2 separate regions of the Homo sapiens genome follow, and region 1 is linked to region 2. A link means that fine-mapping ties the variant in region 2 to the expression of a gene that starts in the linked region. Tissue or cell type: whole blood. Region 2 holds a variant in brackets; the other region holds the start of a gene. All regions are shown on one strand. Distances are between the middles of the regions.

Region 1 (8,338 bases), 39 kb before region 2:
GATTTTTATTCTTCCCCAAACATTTTTCTCTCCTGTACTTAAACACTGATTAGAAAAAAAAAAAAAAAGCATTAAAGCCATAGATGTTTTTTTACAGGGCTTTAAAAAAAATGGATTACATGGATTCGATGAACCTTCTCCTAGTGAAAGCCTGACAAGGTCATTATTAAGGAATACAAAGACAACTGCTAGATAAATCAGAAGAATGAGGCCCAATATTCACTCGAGTCACCAGGCATTTATCTATATTTGTAAGTGGCTCTCTAACATGTTTATTTCATTGGTATAAGCTTTCCAACAGAACCCTAAAGCGATTATATAGAACACTGGGTCTTCCTAATAGCCTCTAATTTCACAAGCCATGGTAATTTAAAAGAGAGTGGGTGGATGAAGGGCCAGGAGCAGGGAGATTTCTGCTGAAGAATACAAATGTGTTCGTGGCTACGTTGCTTCTGCCTCTTTCTGGGGAAAGGCAAAATGCACACAGGAATGTGATGGAACCTTCCAGCTGGTGGTTTTGCATTGCAGGAAGAAAAGTGTTTGTGAACATGAAAATTGCTGATAATTGGGTGTGAACGCCTGTAAGGGAGACAAATGGAGAAACATTGCAGCATCTTTATTTCTATCAAGGGCTGAACTCTGCTGGTGGGTGTGTGAATTGGCACCATCTTTTGGAGGGGAATTTAGCAGCGTGCTGACACTCTGACCCAGCAATTCCCCTTCTAGGAATCTGTCTTATAGCAATACTTGTTCATGCACATAAAATGTACAAGGATGCTCATGATAGCATTGTTTGCAGGTGTGAAAACTAGAAATAACCTACATCCATCAACAATAAAATGTTTAAACAGGCCAGGATGCCTGTAACCCCAGCACTTTGGGAGGCCGAGGCGGGTGGATCACTTGAGGTCAGGAGTTCGAGACCAGCCTGGCCAACATAGTGAAACCCCTGTCTCTACGAAAAATACAAAACTTAGCCAGATGTGGTGGCGGGCACCTGTAATCCCAGCTACTCAGGAGGCTGAGGCAGGAGAATCACTTCAACCCGGATGGTGGAGGTTGCAGGGAGCCTAGATTGTGCCACTGCACTCCAGCCTGGGTGACAGAGCAAGACTCGCTCTCAAAAAAAAAAAAAAAAAAAGAAAGAAACAAAAGAAAAGAAGAAAGAAAGAAAGAGAAAGAAAATGTTTAAACACTTTCTTTTAAACAAAAAATTTTAAACAAAATTATGGCATATCCATATCTTAGAATAATTTGCTACTAATACATGGAATGAGGGAAATCTATATATTCTGACACAGAACATTGTCCCTGATACGCTAAGTGCAAAAAAAGCAAATTGCAAAATAGTATCTATCCTAGGAATCCACTTAAAATTGTTTTTAATGTTAATATATTCATAGAAAAATATTGGAAGGAATATGTGCCAAAGATTACCGTGGCTATTTCTGGGGCATGATGTATGTATTTCATAATGTTTACATTTTTATGAACATGGATTACTTTTGCAAACAGGAAAAATCCAATGACGTTGAATTATTTCCCCAAGGGAAGGAAGGAAATAAAAAAGGAACCGGCTGGTAATGAGATTTATTCACTGTCTTTGGGTGAGAGGCTTCAGTGTAATTCCACGGTGAGTGCACTCTGATTCCGGCACCCTGGGCAAGGGCGATATGTAGTAAAAATGAACGGAAGTGACCATGCCCACACCAGGGGCCGCAGACAAACGGCCTCTCTCCGCTCCCTTGCCCTGGTCTCCTGCTTGTTGCTGCGGCTACTGCTGCTGCTCCTGACTCTTGGCTGATGCCTGAGTGCCTGCTTTCTTCCCATTTCCTTCTCTCACCCTGCAAGCCGCTGTAGAGGACACTTAAACATGGTGGTAAAGACCTTGGCCTTTAGAGGTAGGTAGCCCTAGGTTCAAACCCCGACTTCACCACTTTCCTGTGTGACTTTGGAACATTTACTGCTCCTCTTAGGACCTCTGTTTCCTCGTATGAAAAATATCATCATCTTAGAGAACCTGCCTCATAGGATCTCTGGAGTGATGAAAAGAAACAAGTATAAAAAGCCTGGGTGCAGTGGCTCACGCCTGTAATTCCAGCACTTTGGGAGGCTGAGGTGGGCAAATCACTAGAGGTCAGGATTTCGAGACCAGCCTGGCCAACACAGTGAAACCCCATCTCTACTAAAAATACAACAATTAGCCAGGCATGCTTGCTTGAACCCAGGAGGCAGAGGTCACAGTGAGCTGAGATCGTGCCACTGCACTCCAGCCTGGGCAACAGAGCAAGACTCGGTCTCAAAAAAAAAACAAAAACAGAAAAGCCCCAAAGAAGTCTAAAAAGTGCCTGGGCATACTAAGTGCTTAATAATGACACCTATTATTAGTATTATTGTCACCGAGTCCTTTCAATTCTTTCTTGGTTGAATTTTCCCATCTATCTTCTACCTGATAAACTCCTACCCAGCTTCCAGGCCTGGCTCAAAATGCCATCATTGTGAAACCTCTTCTGGTCCCTTTCCCCAACACCCAGAACTGACTGACGTTCCCATTGGAGGGACATTACATTCCGGCACTGTGCTGGGTACCTGGCTGCATTACCCAAATTCTACTCTGATTTGCAGTTCTGTCTCCTCTCCTCTACAGACCCCTAGCTCCTGCAGGGCAGCAGGCAGCTCAGATCTCTTCATCTCAGTGCAGGCCCAGAGTGTGAGTGCAAGTAATCATTTTTCCAATTGATTTAATCCCATCCCTGCTCCTAAGACCTTGGCCTAGCCGTTTCCAGTTCATGGGGGAACTATGATAACAACTGTCTAATCAGTCCCCCACAATTCAGGCTAACATGTGAATTACATAAGTCCTTGCTCAAAACCCTTCAAGGACAGAGCAGAATTTCCGAAAAAATCCCAGAGTTGGAGCCAGACCTGGGTTTAGCTCTAGTTTTGCCACAGGCTGATGTGATCCTATCACCTGGCTTTACCTCTCTAAGCCTTAGCTTGGCCATCAGTAAAACCAAGGCCCTCCTGCCACAGGGCACTAGAGGGTGCTCAGTGAGAAGTGCATGTGAAAATGTGTCAACATTACCTGAATGTTAGCTATTACTATTTCTATTATTTTTGAGAGGTAGTGTATTTTGGGGAGGAAGGAGAGGGTAGTTGAAAAAGTTTCTGTCCTGGAAGTCAAACCACCTCCTGAATGGTAATCTTCAGCAAGTTTCTCCAGTTATACAAAGAGGAGAGCTGTAAGATTTTTCTACTCCTAGGGTCCTGTTTCCTCCAGAAACTGCATTTGAAGCACCCTTTGTGAGACCATTCCACAAGGCAAGGGGGCAAAAACTGTGATCCACCCTTGAAATTAAATGCAAGTATCAGAGAACGTCTGTGCACTCCCATATCCACCCTTGTATTTGAAAAGGGCTTTAGCGTGAAGAAGTCTCCGTCAAATCTTGACGGTGGTATTCTCTACATGGCGGGATTGGGCATCATTTTAATTTTGTGTTTTTCCAAATCTTCGAAATCTGCAATTTTGGAACTAGAGCGATGATGGGGGCACAATATTGTGAAGGCACTACATGCTACTACACTGTCCATTTCAGAACGGCTAGTTCCATATTATGTGAGTGTCGCCTCACTTAAAAACCTTCAATACGCTCCCGATTTTATAGTCATTCTTTAAACCGTAGTTTGAAGAGAGAAGTACAGAGGCTATCAAGGCTCAGGGCCCGCGGAGTCGGGTGACGCTCGCCTCCGCCGATTTGTCCAAGTCGCAACCTAGCCGCCAGCCTGTAGGGCACTCCTCCGACCACGAGGGGACAATGCAAAGCCTCGCGTTCCCCACACTAAGGCGAGCACCGCCTCTTGCGTCTTGGAAGCGCCTGTGCGTGCGTGGGGCGTAGCAAGGGACGGAAGCTCTGCCTGTGCGACCGCCGCCCACCCGAGCCTATCTGGGCTGCGTCTTCTCGCCGCTGCTCTTCGTGGCCCAACGCCCCAATCCTTGCGTGTGCTTGCAGTCCCACCCCACACTCAGCCTTGTGTCCCTCGATCCAGTCTCCGACTTCCATTTCCCACCCTAAACCGCCTACCCGGTGTCTGTTCCCCGCCCGGTTGTCCTCGCCCTGCTGCGCTGAGTGTCCCCTGTTAGCCTCGACCCCATGGCGCTGCAGACGCTGCAGAGCTCGTGGGTGACCTTCCGCAAGATCCTGTCTCACTTCCCCGAGGAGCTGAGTCTGGCTTTCGTCTACGGCTCCGGGGTGTACCGCCAGGCAGGGCCGAGTTCAGACCAGAAGGTGAGCCCGGGCAGCCCCACGACGGGGAACTGTCTGTTCTCACGAGTCCCGTTTTGCCCTCGATTCCTTCAGAGTCGGAGAGCTGCCTGTCCGCTCTGCACACTCCACGTGTCCACTAGCAGAGTGAACCATAGGCCTGCCTTCCTAGTATAACGACAGCGCGAGTTGAAGCGACGGTGTTGAAGGATACTTAGGAATCCACGTGGGTCTAGAGCAGGAGAAGCAGTTAGGCAGAAGGAAAAACTGCTGCAGGGGCAAATGGAAGAAAGGAAAAGAAATCGTTATCAGGTTCTTTCAGTGTTTTAGTCGGCTGGACATCGGAATTTTCTGGGGAGCTTTTAAGAAAATCCTAATGCTCGGCTTCCGCCGATGGAGATTCTGATTTAATTGGTTTGGGATGAGGCCTGGGCTTCAGGAATTTAAGAAACGTCCCAGGTGATTCTAATGCGCAGCCAAGTTTGTTGAGAGTCACCTCTATAAATGTAGGAGAAAATGCAAAATGATCTTCTGACTTCAGGAAGTTGGCGGACTGGTTGTAGGGCCAGGGCAGGTGCAGTGAAAGTAACTAACATCAAAAGTTAGTGCGTGACCAGTGTATTTACCCTCGCTCAGCACTTTTAACAACGGTCTGTTTGAGACTAGGCATTGTTACTTTTCAGAGTTGGCTCAGCACAGCCTCAGTAAGGGTACAGTTTTCCTTGTAATTTGCAGAATTCAGTGTGCAGGTTTTAATGGGGCCCCCTGCGTCTGGATACCTGACTGTAGTCTGTCTTCTGATTAACATCCTGCCTGTTCACTTCCTGGTGAGGCCATCTATGCTGTTGCTTGGATTTCCTCTGTTTCCCACTTACACTACTATTTAATATTTTTCTTTAAATTGGCAGCATATGAGAAATTATAGGTTATTATAGGCTAGTTATTTTTCCCGAATTTACCTTAACATAATTACACATTTTTAAAAAACATGTTTATTCCATACCTGCCTCGCCACCAAATCTCAAGTGTCCCCAGTGGTCTGTAGAGTCACACTCTACAGAGCAGGCGTTAGCCTCCTGATGGCCACCTCTTCATTCTTCCATGGAGGTTTTCCTTTGAATAGACCTGGAATTCCCTGCAAGAAAAGGTCCTTCCTTCCCATTCCCTCACTTTTGATTCCTTACATTCAAGTGAACAAGTTGTAGATTCCAACACCTACATCTTTCTCACATCAGTCCCCATCCTTAGCGCCTTAGCTAATATAATTTCATTTCTCCCCTGGAATCTTGCCATGGCTTCAGATCTAATTCCCCCACCCCCTTAGTCCCTCTTCTCTCCAGTCAGCTCTTCTGCAGGAAAATTTTCTAGCATGGCAAACAGCCTCCCTCTCTGATCTCATCTCCCACCGCATAAATGTGTTCTATTTCAGTCATATCTGACGGCAGCTTCCAGAACATGCTGGCTCCCATATCCACAGAGCACTTTCCTCCAACACGGCTCCCTACCCTTCCCTGTGCTTCCCCCAGTGCTTCCAGCAAGTCTGTTTAACTCACGTGTCCTTCAAGACTCAGATTTGTCATCTCTAGGAGAATTTCTCCCTCCTGTGCCCCTGATCTGATCCCTATGCTGAGTGCAGTTAGTACATTTTGCATTCCTCTATCAAGTCAATGTAGTGATAATTTGTTTATTCTCTCCAGTAGACTCTGAGCTCTATACTTCTACCCTAGGGCCTGTCAGAGTTCATTACTTATGTACTCAATAAGTGGTTGGTGAATAGGTAAGAGATAAAATAACTGACTTCCTTTTATATAGTATTTTGTAGAGTTTATCCAGGTGGTGCTAATTTGATCCAGAAGAAAAGCGGAGCACATTTAGCTACATTTGTGAAAGGCAGTGTAGTGCAGTGGTTCAGCACACACAGTTTGGAGCCAGACCTCTTAGGTCTGCCACTCACAAGCTCTGTGTCCTTGGGCAAAGAGCATCCCCTGTGCCTTGGTTTCTTATAAAATTGAGATAATAGCAGTAGCTACCTTGTAGGGTTGTGCTGAGGATAAATGGAGTGACTGCGTATGTTACCCATAAAGTGTTTAAAGAGTGCTGGCACAACAATACATGTTAAAGAAGTGTTTGCTATTATTACATTGATGAAAACAAAGCTCATATTTGTTCCAGAGACTCGCTCACATTTCTGATGACAGCACCAGGCCTTCTGACTATTGATCATAATTGCGTAGTATGTTAGAGCTTTTCCATGCTCTCTTGCTGCCTTTCTAGGAATTAATACTGAAATTATTCTCTTTTCTTCACTCCACAGAATGCTATGCTGGACTTTGTGTTCACAGTAGATGACCCTGTCGCATGGCATTCAAAGAACCTGAAGAAAAATTGGAGTCACTACTCTTTCCTAAAAGTTTTAGGGCCCAAGATTATCACGTCCATCCAGAATAACTATGGCGCTGGAGTTTACTACAATTCATTGATCATGTGTAATGGTAGGGTAAGTGACTGCTGGCCTTTGTCTTAACTTGGCTGGTTATTTACCTGGGTTATTAGAGTGCCAGCTAAATATGTATGTTCTTGTGGTCAGGAAACATTCACACTCCTGCTGGACGTTGTTATAGTCGGGAAATATGTATGTTTTTATAGTATGTATATTCTTATAGTCAGGAAACATTCACACTCCTGCCAGACGTCTTGAACTTGGGGACAGAGCAGGGACTGGAGTCCTTCCTCATGTCCCATTAACTGTCATTGCAGTGTGAGGAGGTGGTTGGGTGTGACTGACTTATTTTATTTTTTTTATTTTTTTGAGACGGAGTTTTGCTCTTGTTGCCCAGGCTGGAGTGCAGTGGTGTGATCGCAGCTCACTGCAACCTCCGCCTCACGGGTTCAAGTGATTCTCCCGCCTCAGCCTCCCAGTTAGCTGGGATTACAGGCGTGTGCCACCTTGTAGGAGAGACAGGGTTTCACCATGTTGGCCAGGCTGGTCTCGAACTCCTGACCTCAGGTGATCTGCCCGCCTCAGCCTCCCAAAGTGCTGGGATTACAGGCGTGAGCCACTGAGCCCGGCCACACTGACTTTATTTTTTTGTCTTTGGCCAAGTGGTTCTCAAGTTTTAGTGTGCATCAGAATCCCCTAGGTTGTGTGTCCATTGGACACACAGATTGCTGGGCCCCACCCCCAGAGTTCTGATCACTAGGTCTGGGGTAGGGATTGAAGATTTGCATCTCTTAACACACTTCCAAACAGTGCTGAAGCTGCTGGTCTAGAACCATTGGTCTGGTCAGTGGGAGGAATAGGCAGGCCAATTTTGGGTCAGGTTGGAGATTGATTTTATCTAGAAGGAGGGGCAGACACCCCCAGGAAGAAGTTGGAAGTGAAGAGGATATCACAGGTGATTGAGAGCATGTGTGTCAGGTGATAGACGGGAACCTCTTGGTGCCAGGAGACGCGTGGAATTTGACAGTGGGCTGTTGGAGAGCAGGTAAGTTGCATGGATTCCTGCTGGTGGTTCATCTGACAGCAGGAACTTTGCTGAACTGTCTTTCAGCTGAAGCATCGCAGTCTCCAAGAGAGCTGTCAAGACCTAGGCAGAACCCCAGCCTGCAAGGATCAGTAGGGGTCTAAATCAGATGCTTCCTAGAGCTTCCCTGGGCCAGGGATGACATATGGGTTTCACTTGCTGTGCCAGCTCTGCCACTCATTGTTCAAGGCGGTCAGGCTTTGGCCGGCATCGAGCCACCTGGAGATCCCATTTCAGTGCAGATCCTGACTCAGTTGGTCTGAGATGGAACCTGAGATTCTGCCTTTTTTTTTTCTTTTTCTTTTTTTGAAACAGGGTCTGGCTCTGTCACCCAGGCTAGAATGCAGTGGCACCATCTCCGCTCATTGCAATCTCTGCCTCCCGGGCTCAAGCCATCTACCTGTCTCAGCCTCCCAAGTAGCTGGGGCTACAGGCACATACCACCACGCCTGGCTAATTGTTGTATTTTTTGTAGAGACAGGGTTTTGCCATGTTGCCCAGGCTGGTCTTGAACTCCTGACCCCAAACAGTCCTCCCAAAGTACTGGGATTT
Region 2 (8,338 bases):
TTATAGTATAGTCACAGAGCTGCACAGCCATCACCACAATGTAATTTTAGAATATTTCTGTCACTCCATACCCTTTAGCCGTCCCCAGCTCTCCCCTCACCCAGGCAACCACTAATCCACTTCTGTCTCTGTAATTTTTCTGTTCTGGACAGTTCATATGCATGGAATCATATAAAGTTTTTTCCATATCTGCTTTTTTCTTAAGTTGACATATAATAATTGTATCCATGTCCGCTTTTAAAATGCAATTTGACTTTCACAGTTTAGCTGAATGCTTTCACTTTCGTTATTTTAATGAGAGTTAGTGTAAGGAAAATGAGAATTTACCAAATTTTTAAATCATGTCACCTGGTATTTTATCTTTACACTCATGCTTTCAAGTGAAAATTCCAGTGCATTATTTTCCTCAAGAGAAAGCAGTGGCAGATAAGTACTTTCTAATTTTTTTATATGTCACTCAAGCCGTTGGAAGCTTCATAGGTAAAGCATAACTTAAATATAAGTTTATTCTAACTAATCCCAATATGTGGCCTCAAAACATAAGTCCATAAATGTCATTTCTAAGATTATTTTACATAAATACTCAAATTTGTTGTCATTTTTGTAGCCAAAGCTAAGTAGAGGATGGGGCCTGTGAATTTAGAACCATCCTAGTGATAAATATCAAATATTTAGATAAAAACCTAAATATTTACCCCTCTAGCTTTATGGAGCCATTAAATAATAACATTTTTCTCCTTCTCTTCATAGAGTTTATAGACAAAACTAGAAAATTCAGGTATTTGGTATATACTTTTTTGTTTTTTTTGATACCATCTTGGTCTTGTCACCCAGGCTGTAGTGCAGTGGCACAATCACCACTCATCGTAGCCTCAACTTCCCAGGCTCAAGTGATCCTCCCACCTCAGCCTCCCAAGTAGACAGAACTGTAGGCTTGCACCACCATGTCTGGCTTTTTTTTGTTTTCTTTTTTTTTTTCGTAGAGCCGGATATCTCACTCTTTTGCTAGGGCTGATGTTGAATTTTTGTGCTCAAGCAATTCTCCTGCCTCAGCCTCCCAAACTGTTGGGATTACAGGTGTGAACCTGTGCTCCTGGCCCATTTGGTATGTACTTAATAAATATTTATTCAATTTAAAAAATGGTAGAATGAGTGGATTCTAATTATTAAGAAAGTTCGTCCTATCTGTAAACTCTAAGCCTAAAATGTAATACATTGATCTGATTTTTTCTTACTCTTCTCTTAGTTGAAGTTAAAACCTAAATATTTGTTAAAAGGATACAAGACAGATTCTTCCTTGGGAAATAATGTGATGGGCTGTTGAGGGCAGTGTTACTGGTTCTGCACTTGGCAGGAAATCAATGTTTACAAGATTTTTAAAAATTCATTCCACGAGGCACAGTGTATGAAACTTGGAGTTAGGAAAGCTAGGTCTGGCCTCAGCTCTGTGGCTAACTTTTGATTCAAGGGTTTCTGAGTAAAGTCTGACACATAGTTTTACATGTTTTATTTATATATTTATCTTCAGCACCTTAGTATGTTTTAGAATACTTTGGGAACCGAAGCCGCTGGCATAGTAGCTTTAGGACAACTAAGTTGTATTGATTCAGTTACTCATTTCCTTATTGTTTTTTGAGTACCTACTGTGTGCTGGGGATTAAAAGTAAGTAAGATTAGTTTCTGTCATCAGTGTATTCCTACAGTTTGTGAAATACAGCATACTAAAAGGCCCTACAGGCAGGAGACACAATTCAGATCCCACTTACTCTCATTGGTGATGTGATCAGGGCACGCCAGTCTCCCTGTGTTTGAAATGGGAGGGGTCATCTCAGTGCCTGGATTTGACGCGGCCTCCACGAGTGTCAACTGCAGCACCACTTCCTTTGACTGCTGGATTTAAGACAAATATAAATTTTAAAACCAAAAGTCAGAAATTGATCCTTGAGAGTGGCTTCTATTCTTTTCTCAGGTAGAAATGGAATATTATAGGACAAGAATTGTCCTTTTTGAAGGGACTTAGACTCCTGAACACTTACCCATTCAGTTTCAGAAAAAGAGAGTTTCCTTAGCTTGCTGCCTCGCCAGGGGTGTGGGTGCATATATGTTTGTGTGATTTTTAAAGAGAAGCCCTGAGTTTTGGAGTATTTGTAGGATTTAAAGCACTTCCATAGACGTCGTCTTTTTTTTCCTCCCTTCAGATAGATAAAAGCCCAGAAGGACAGTTCACTCAGCTGATGACATTGCCCAAAACCTTACAGCAACAGATAAATCATATTATGGACCCTCCTGGAAAAAACAGAGATGTGGAAGAAACTTTATTCCAAGTGGCTCATGATCCCGACTGTGGAGATGTGGTGCGACTAGGTACGTTTATGAATTTGATGTTGAGGAAATGCCAGCCATGGGGAAAAGCAGACTTTGTTTGTGATTGGAATGTATTATTTCTTCCTTTTTGTTTAGCGAGATAGAGAGATTGCCTCTCAGAAGAAGAAAGCACTAAAAATTTGAGGGTTTTCTAAATCTGCATTTTTATTTGTTTGAAGTAAGATGGTGAAAATACTTCTGTTTTTAAATTCCTGGATCCTAAATCACTGTCAAAGGGAGAAACAATGTTTCTTTTGGTTCCTAGAGCACAACTTCTAGAATTTATTTAAAAGATGTGTCTGTGTTTTGTGGTGGTCTGAGAAAAGAGATTGGTGGCATTTTTTTGTGCTTTTATAACATCGAGAACACAGCTTTCCTCAATCAACTCCATTTGATGTGTCTCATACATTGTTGAGTACATTCCCTCAGACATGGCCCACGTTCCACAGCATTTTCCCCAGCACTGCCCTGATGTTTATCCAAAACTCTGAACCCAGGCCAGGTGCAGTGGCTCACGCCTGTACTCCCAACACTTTAGGAAGTCCAGGAGGGAGAATCACTTGAGGCCAGGAGTTTGAGACCAGCTTGGGCAACAGAGCAAGACCCTGTCTCTGCAAAAATTACAAAAGTAGCTGGGCATGGTGGCACATGCCTATAATCTCAGCTAACTTGGGAGTCTGAGGTGGGAGGATCGCTTGAGCAGTTGGAGGCTGCAATGAGCTAGGATCGCACCACTACACTCCAGGCTTGGTGATAGAGCAGCCCGTATCTCTTAAAAAACAAACAAAAAAAAGAGCCTGAACCTTATCTTCAGAGACTAACTTCCCTTTAAGGTGCTAAAGGTAATTTATGAGATCAGTCAATCAAGAAATATTTATGAAATTGAGAATGAGTCCCTCTGTCAATTGAGTGCATTCTCCTGTTTTCATTCAGTAAATATTTACTGAGCTCCTCCGCGTGCCAGATAGAATTTCCAGTAATGCTTTGCAAAGACCATCGCACTGCAGTGGATGAGCTGCAGCAGGCGCTCCACGCCCACTCTCCTCCTGGGCCTGCACTAGGTTTGCAGAGTGTGTGTTTAGGTCACCAGCTCCCCATCCTGAAGATAGCTCTGTACGAGGCACACTGTTGTTTGTTTGAACATGATCCTGGCAACAGTGTGATCTGGGCCGTCTCTTTGAGG[T/G]GAGTGAAACTTGTTCCTCACTGTGGAATCCGTATGTGTGTTTTCAGAATGAAAGTTTTTCTCGTAGATGTAATCATTTGGTTTTTATCTTTTCATGTTATGGAATTGAGAACCAGAAATCTCAAGCAGATTTAAGTCATAAAATGCCCTTTGAGGGTCAGCTAACCCATCCCCTTGTTTTAAGGGGAAGAGGCACAGAGCTGTTCGGTCATCGGCTTGGACTCACACAGCCGGGTGGCGCCACGGCTGGCTGCTCTGGTCTCCTGGCCCTCAATCCCACTGCCCTTTTCATTGTCACTGTGACAGCAGGACAGAGATAGATTTGGTGGTTTGATTGGCTGACTAGAAAGAATATTTAGTTTCAAGTTTTAAAACTGTTAAGATGACTAACATCTGTTTTGGGTTTTTTTGGTCTCCTTTTTGGTTTTTTTCTCGCAGGGCTTTCAGCAATCGTGAGACCGTCTAGTATAAGACAGAGCACGAAAGGCATTTTTACTGCTGGTAAGAGCTTTGGAAATCCGTGTGTAACATACCTGCTGACTGAGTGGCTTCCACACTCTTGGTTACAGTGTAAAGCTTTGTATCTTTTAGGTGCTTGTGAAATGCTGAGCTTTGATGGCCATAAACTGGGATATTGCAGTAAGGTACAAACAGGCATAACAGCAGCAGAACCTGGTGGTCGAACAATGTCAGACCATTGGCAGTGCTGTTGGAAGCTTTACTGCCCTTCTGAATTTTCTGAGACACTTCCTGTGTGCAGGGTTTTTCCCTCATATTGTTTTATTTATCAAAGTTACAGATGCATAGGATTGCAAAAACAGCAGCATCTGTGCTCCCCCTCCTCTTCCCCTTCTCTGAGACAACTGCTTCCATCTGTCTTAGTGGGTTATTTTTGTTGTTACTGCCATTTCTCTAAATGGTAAGTTTTCGTTGCTCCTTCTCTACGTTTCAACTTTAGGTATCATCTATTGACTTCTCTCTATGGGAGGTTAGAAGTCAACTCTGGCACCCACCCTCATCAAATGTACGCACCCTCCCATCCCTCTGTCCTCCTAATATAGTTGTCTGGTGGTTTTGGCTAATTAGTTTTCAGTTTGATGGTATGGTGAGCCACAGAGTACACCTTTCCTTCCCTGCATAATGTTCTTCTCTCATGGAGAGTGTCTTCGCTGTCCCCTCTAGGGGGTCCCCCATTTACTGTATCTCATGTCTTTCACTTGCTTGGTGCACACTCTCATTTTGGTGAAGCACATTTTCCAGTAATTTCCTGAGAAGGGGAACATGGAAGGCACATTTGGAGACCACGTATGTCTGAAAGTCTTTTTTGTCTGTCTTCACCCATAGTTAATACTTAGGCTGGGTATTGATTAGAAATCACTTTCCTTTAAAATTTTGAGATCATTGCTGCATTTATCTTTTACTTCTAGGATTGTTGTCTATGTCTAAAGCCAATCTGATTCTTAATCCTTTGTGTATGTTATTTCTGGAAGCATGTTAGGTCTTTATTTTTCCCCAGTGCTCTGAATTCTCTCAGTGATGTGCTTTGATGTGAGTCTGTTTTTATCTGTTTTATCTGTTTTACCGGGAATTCATTGCCCTTTCTGTTGGGAAACTCAGAATATAAGCATATAAGAAAAATGTTTTAAATTTTTTCTTTAATTTTGTCCCATCTGTTTTCTCTGTTCTCTTTCTGGAACTCCTTTTATTCAGATATTGCACCCCCTAGATTAGTCTTTGGTTTTCTTTCTTTTGTCTTCTATTTTTTATCTGTTTTTCTTTTGCTCTGCTTTGGAAGATTTTCTCGAATTTCTCAACTTTAGCTTCCAACCCTTCTGTTGAGTGTTTATAATTTCCAGGAACTCTCTCTTTTCTTGCTGTTCTCTGAATGCTCCTGTTTTTTGCATCCTATTCTTGTTTTATGGCCTAAATATTTGACATCTCTTTGGAGGACAAAGTGGCTGTATCAGTTCATCGTCCCACAAGCAGAGTAGGAGAATACTCTTTTCTTCCCATTTTTTCCAACATTTGGCATCATCAAGTGATAGACTTTTCTAGTTCAGGCTTTCTTCATGCAAGCATCCATTGAGCATCTCTCATGTGCCAGCTGCTCGGGATACAAAAGTGAACACAACGCTGCGTTAGTCTGTTCTCATGCTGCTAATAAAGACATACCTCAGACTGGGTAATTTATAAAGGAAAGAGGTTTAATTGATTAGCAGTTCCACATGGCTGGGGGTGTCTCAGAATCATGGCGGAAGGTGAATGAGGAGCAAAATCATGTCTTACATGGCGGCAGGCAAGAGAGCATGTGCAGGGGAGCTCCCTTTTATAGAACCATCAGATCTCGTAACACTTATTCACTATTATGAAAACAGCACAGGAAAGACCTGCCTTCGTGATTCAATTACCTCCCACCAGGTCCCTCCCACGACGTGGGGATTATTACAATTCAGGGTAAGATTTGGGTGGGAACACAGAGCCAAACCATATCAAATGCTATACTGACTTGCAGAGGCGTATAATTTAGAAGGGAAAAGAGACATGCTAACAGAAATTTGCAAGAGAGGGAGAAATAGCACAGAGGTAGCCCAAAAAGGGGAGTGATCTTTCAACCTAATTCTAATCCCTGGGTTTGAGATTGCTGGGGAGCTGGTATGGTCACACCTCTCAGTGTCTCATAGCCCAGCTGCTTGGATACTCCTCTGAGCATTTGGCCCTCAAGGACCGTGTTGCCCTCCTGAATCACTGGAAAGATTCAACAAGGCCAGGCATGGTGGCTCACACTTATAATCCCAGCACTTTGGGAGGCCAGGGCGGGAGGATTGCTTGGGCTCAAGAGTTCAAGACCAGTCTGGGCAACACAGCAAGACCCTGTCTCTTTAAAAATAACAAAAATAGGCCAGATGCGGTGGCTCACACCTATAATCCCAGCACTTTGGGAGGCCAAGGCAGGAGGATCACTTGAGTCCTGGAGTTTGAGATCAGCCTGGGCAACATGGTGGAACCCTGTCTCTAAAAAAATAGAAAAAATAGGCTGGATGTGGTGACTCATGCCTGTAATCCTAGTACTTTGGGAGGCCGAGACAGGCAGATTGCCCGAGCTCAGGGGTTTGAGACCAGCCTGGGCAACATGGTGAAACCCCGTCTCTACTAAAATACAAAAAATTAGCTGGGCGTGGTGGCACATGCCTGTAGTCCCACCTTTGAGCGGCTGAGGCAGGAGAATTGCTTGAACCTGGGAGGCGGAAGTTGCAGTGAGCCAAGATTGTGCCACTGCCTCTGGCCTGGGCGAGAGTGAGACTTCGTCTCAAAAAAAAAAAAAAAAAAAAAAAAAAAAGGGCTGGGCGTGGTGGTGCGCGCCCGTAGTCCTGAGCCCAGGAAGTCGAGGCGGCATTGAGCTAAGAACGCACCACTGCACTTCAGTCTGGGTGACAGAGTGAGACCCTGTCTCAAAAAAAAAAAAAATTATAATAATAAAAACATTGTATAAAAGTTTCAACAAAGACTTAGTAGCACTTGTGTCACATCTGCTGAACTAAAGATTTTCCTACCATTTGGGTGCATGGCTTTGCATTTCCAGTTAAGATATTCATTTAATCTATGTTCCTGCTAGTTTACTCTGGCAAGACTGAAGATGAGGTACTTTTGTTTGTTTGGGTGATTCATGCTGTTAATCTGAATTTTGCATGATTGCCTTTCCCTTGCCATGATCCTCCTTGGGTGAGGCTTAATGATTTGTTTTGTTGTTGGCGTCCCATGCTATAAGGAATTATTGGAATTATTAGAATTATTGTTAATTATTTTTCAGTTGTGACAATGGTGGTGTTATGGAGCTTTTTAAAAAATTCCCTTTCTTTTAGAGATGCATACTAAAATAATTCCAGATGCAATGATATGTTGTCTGGGATTTGCTTCAAAATAAAACATGGCAGAGGGCAGTGGGTAATGGGTAGATGACACAAGATTGGCCATGAGCTGATATATTGTCAAAGCTAGGTAAAGATGCATGGGGCTGTTTTATACTCTTCTGTCTGTTATTTAAGTTTGAATTTTTCTCTAATAAAAGGCTGAAAAAGATCTTCTTGACACCTTCAACCTGAAATGAGCCTTTGGTCCTCTTTCCACTCATTATTTCTACTCACCAGCAGAGGGCAGTTGATCACAGAACCCACAGCTCAGCTGTCCTTGTGGCCCTGGAGTGCTGATGCTGCTTCCCCTGAGTGCTTACTGCTTGCTTCCCCTTCACTTTTTTTTCTTTTTAATTTTTAAAACGTTTAAGGAATACAAGTGCATTTTTCTTACATGGTGAAGTCTGGGCTTTTAGTGTACCCATCATCACCCAAATAGTGAATATTGTACCCAATAGGTAATTTTCCAACCCTCATCTCCTCCCACCCTCACACTTTTTATAGTCACCAGTGTCATTCTATTCTGTATGCTCATGCATACACATTGTTTAGCTCCCACTTAAAGTGAGAACATGTGATACTTGAATTTCTGTTTCTGAGTTATTTCACTTATACACGTGGCCTCCAGTTCTATCCATCTTGCTGCAAAAGACATTATTTCATTCTTTGTTATGGCTAAGTAGTATTCAAGGTGAGATATAGATGTAGATATATACACATTTTTGTTATCCAGTCCTCCATTGATGGACACTTTGGTTAATTCCATATCATTGCTATTGTGACTAGTGCTGCAGTAAACATACGAGTGGTTTTTTTTGTTTTTGTTTTTGATATAATGATTTCTTTCCTTTTGGATGTATACATAGTAATGGGATTGCTAGAT

Evidence for each region. PIP is the estimated chance that this variant, and not a neighbour inherited with it, causes the effect.
Region 1: it holds the start of TAMM41, and the variant in region 2 is fine-mapped to the expression of TAMM41 in whole blood (TOPMed, PIP above 0.99). The same link has a PIP of 0.9 or more in aorta, blood mononuclear cells, cerebellar hemisphere, cerebellum, cerebral cortex and esophagus mucosa.

Annotation. Positions count from the first base shown.
Region 1 is chr3:11,842,450-11,850,787 of GRCh38, reverse strand. It overlaps TAMM41 (TAM41 mitochondrial translocator assembly and maintenance homolog), which reads left to right and starts at 3,903. Exons shown (of 8, transcript NM_001284401.2): 1 at 3,903-4,286; 2 at 6,577-6,759. The coding sequence starts at 4,152.
Region 2 is chr3:11,803,543-11,811,880 of GRCh38, reverse strand. It overlaps TAMM41 (TAM41 mitochondrial translocator assembly and maintenance homolog), which reads left to right. Exons shown (of 8, transcript NM_001284401.2): 6 at 2,199-2,364; 7 at 3,986-4,048. Among named protein-coding and RNA genes, the nearest start is that of TAMM41, 39 kb to the left of the region's middle. The variant T/G (reference allele first, on the strand shown) is at 3,548.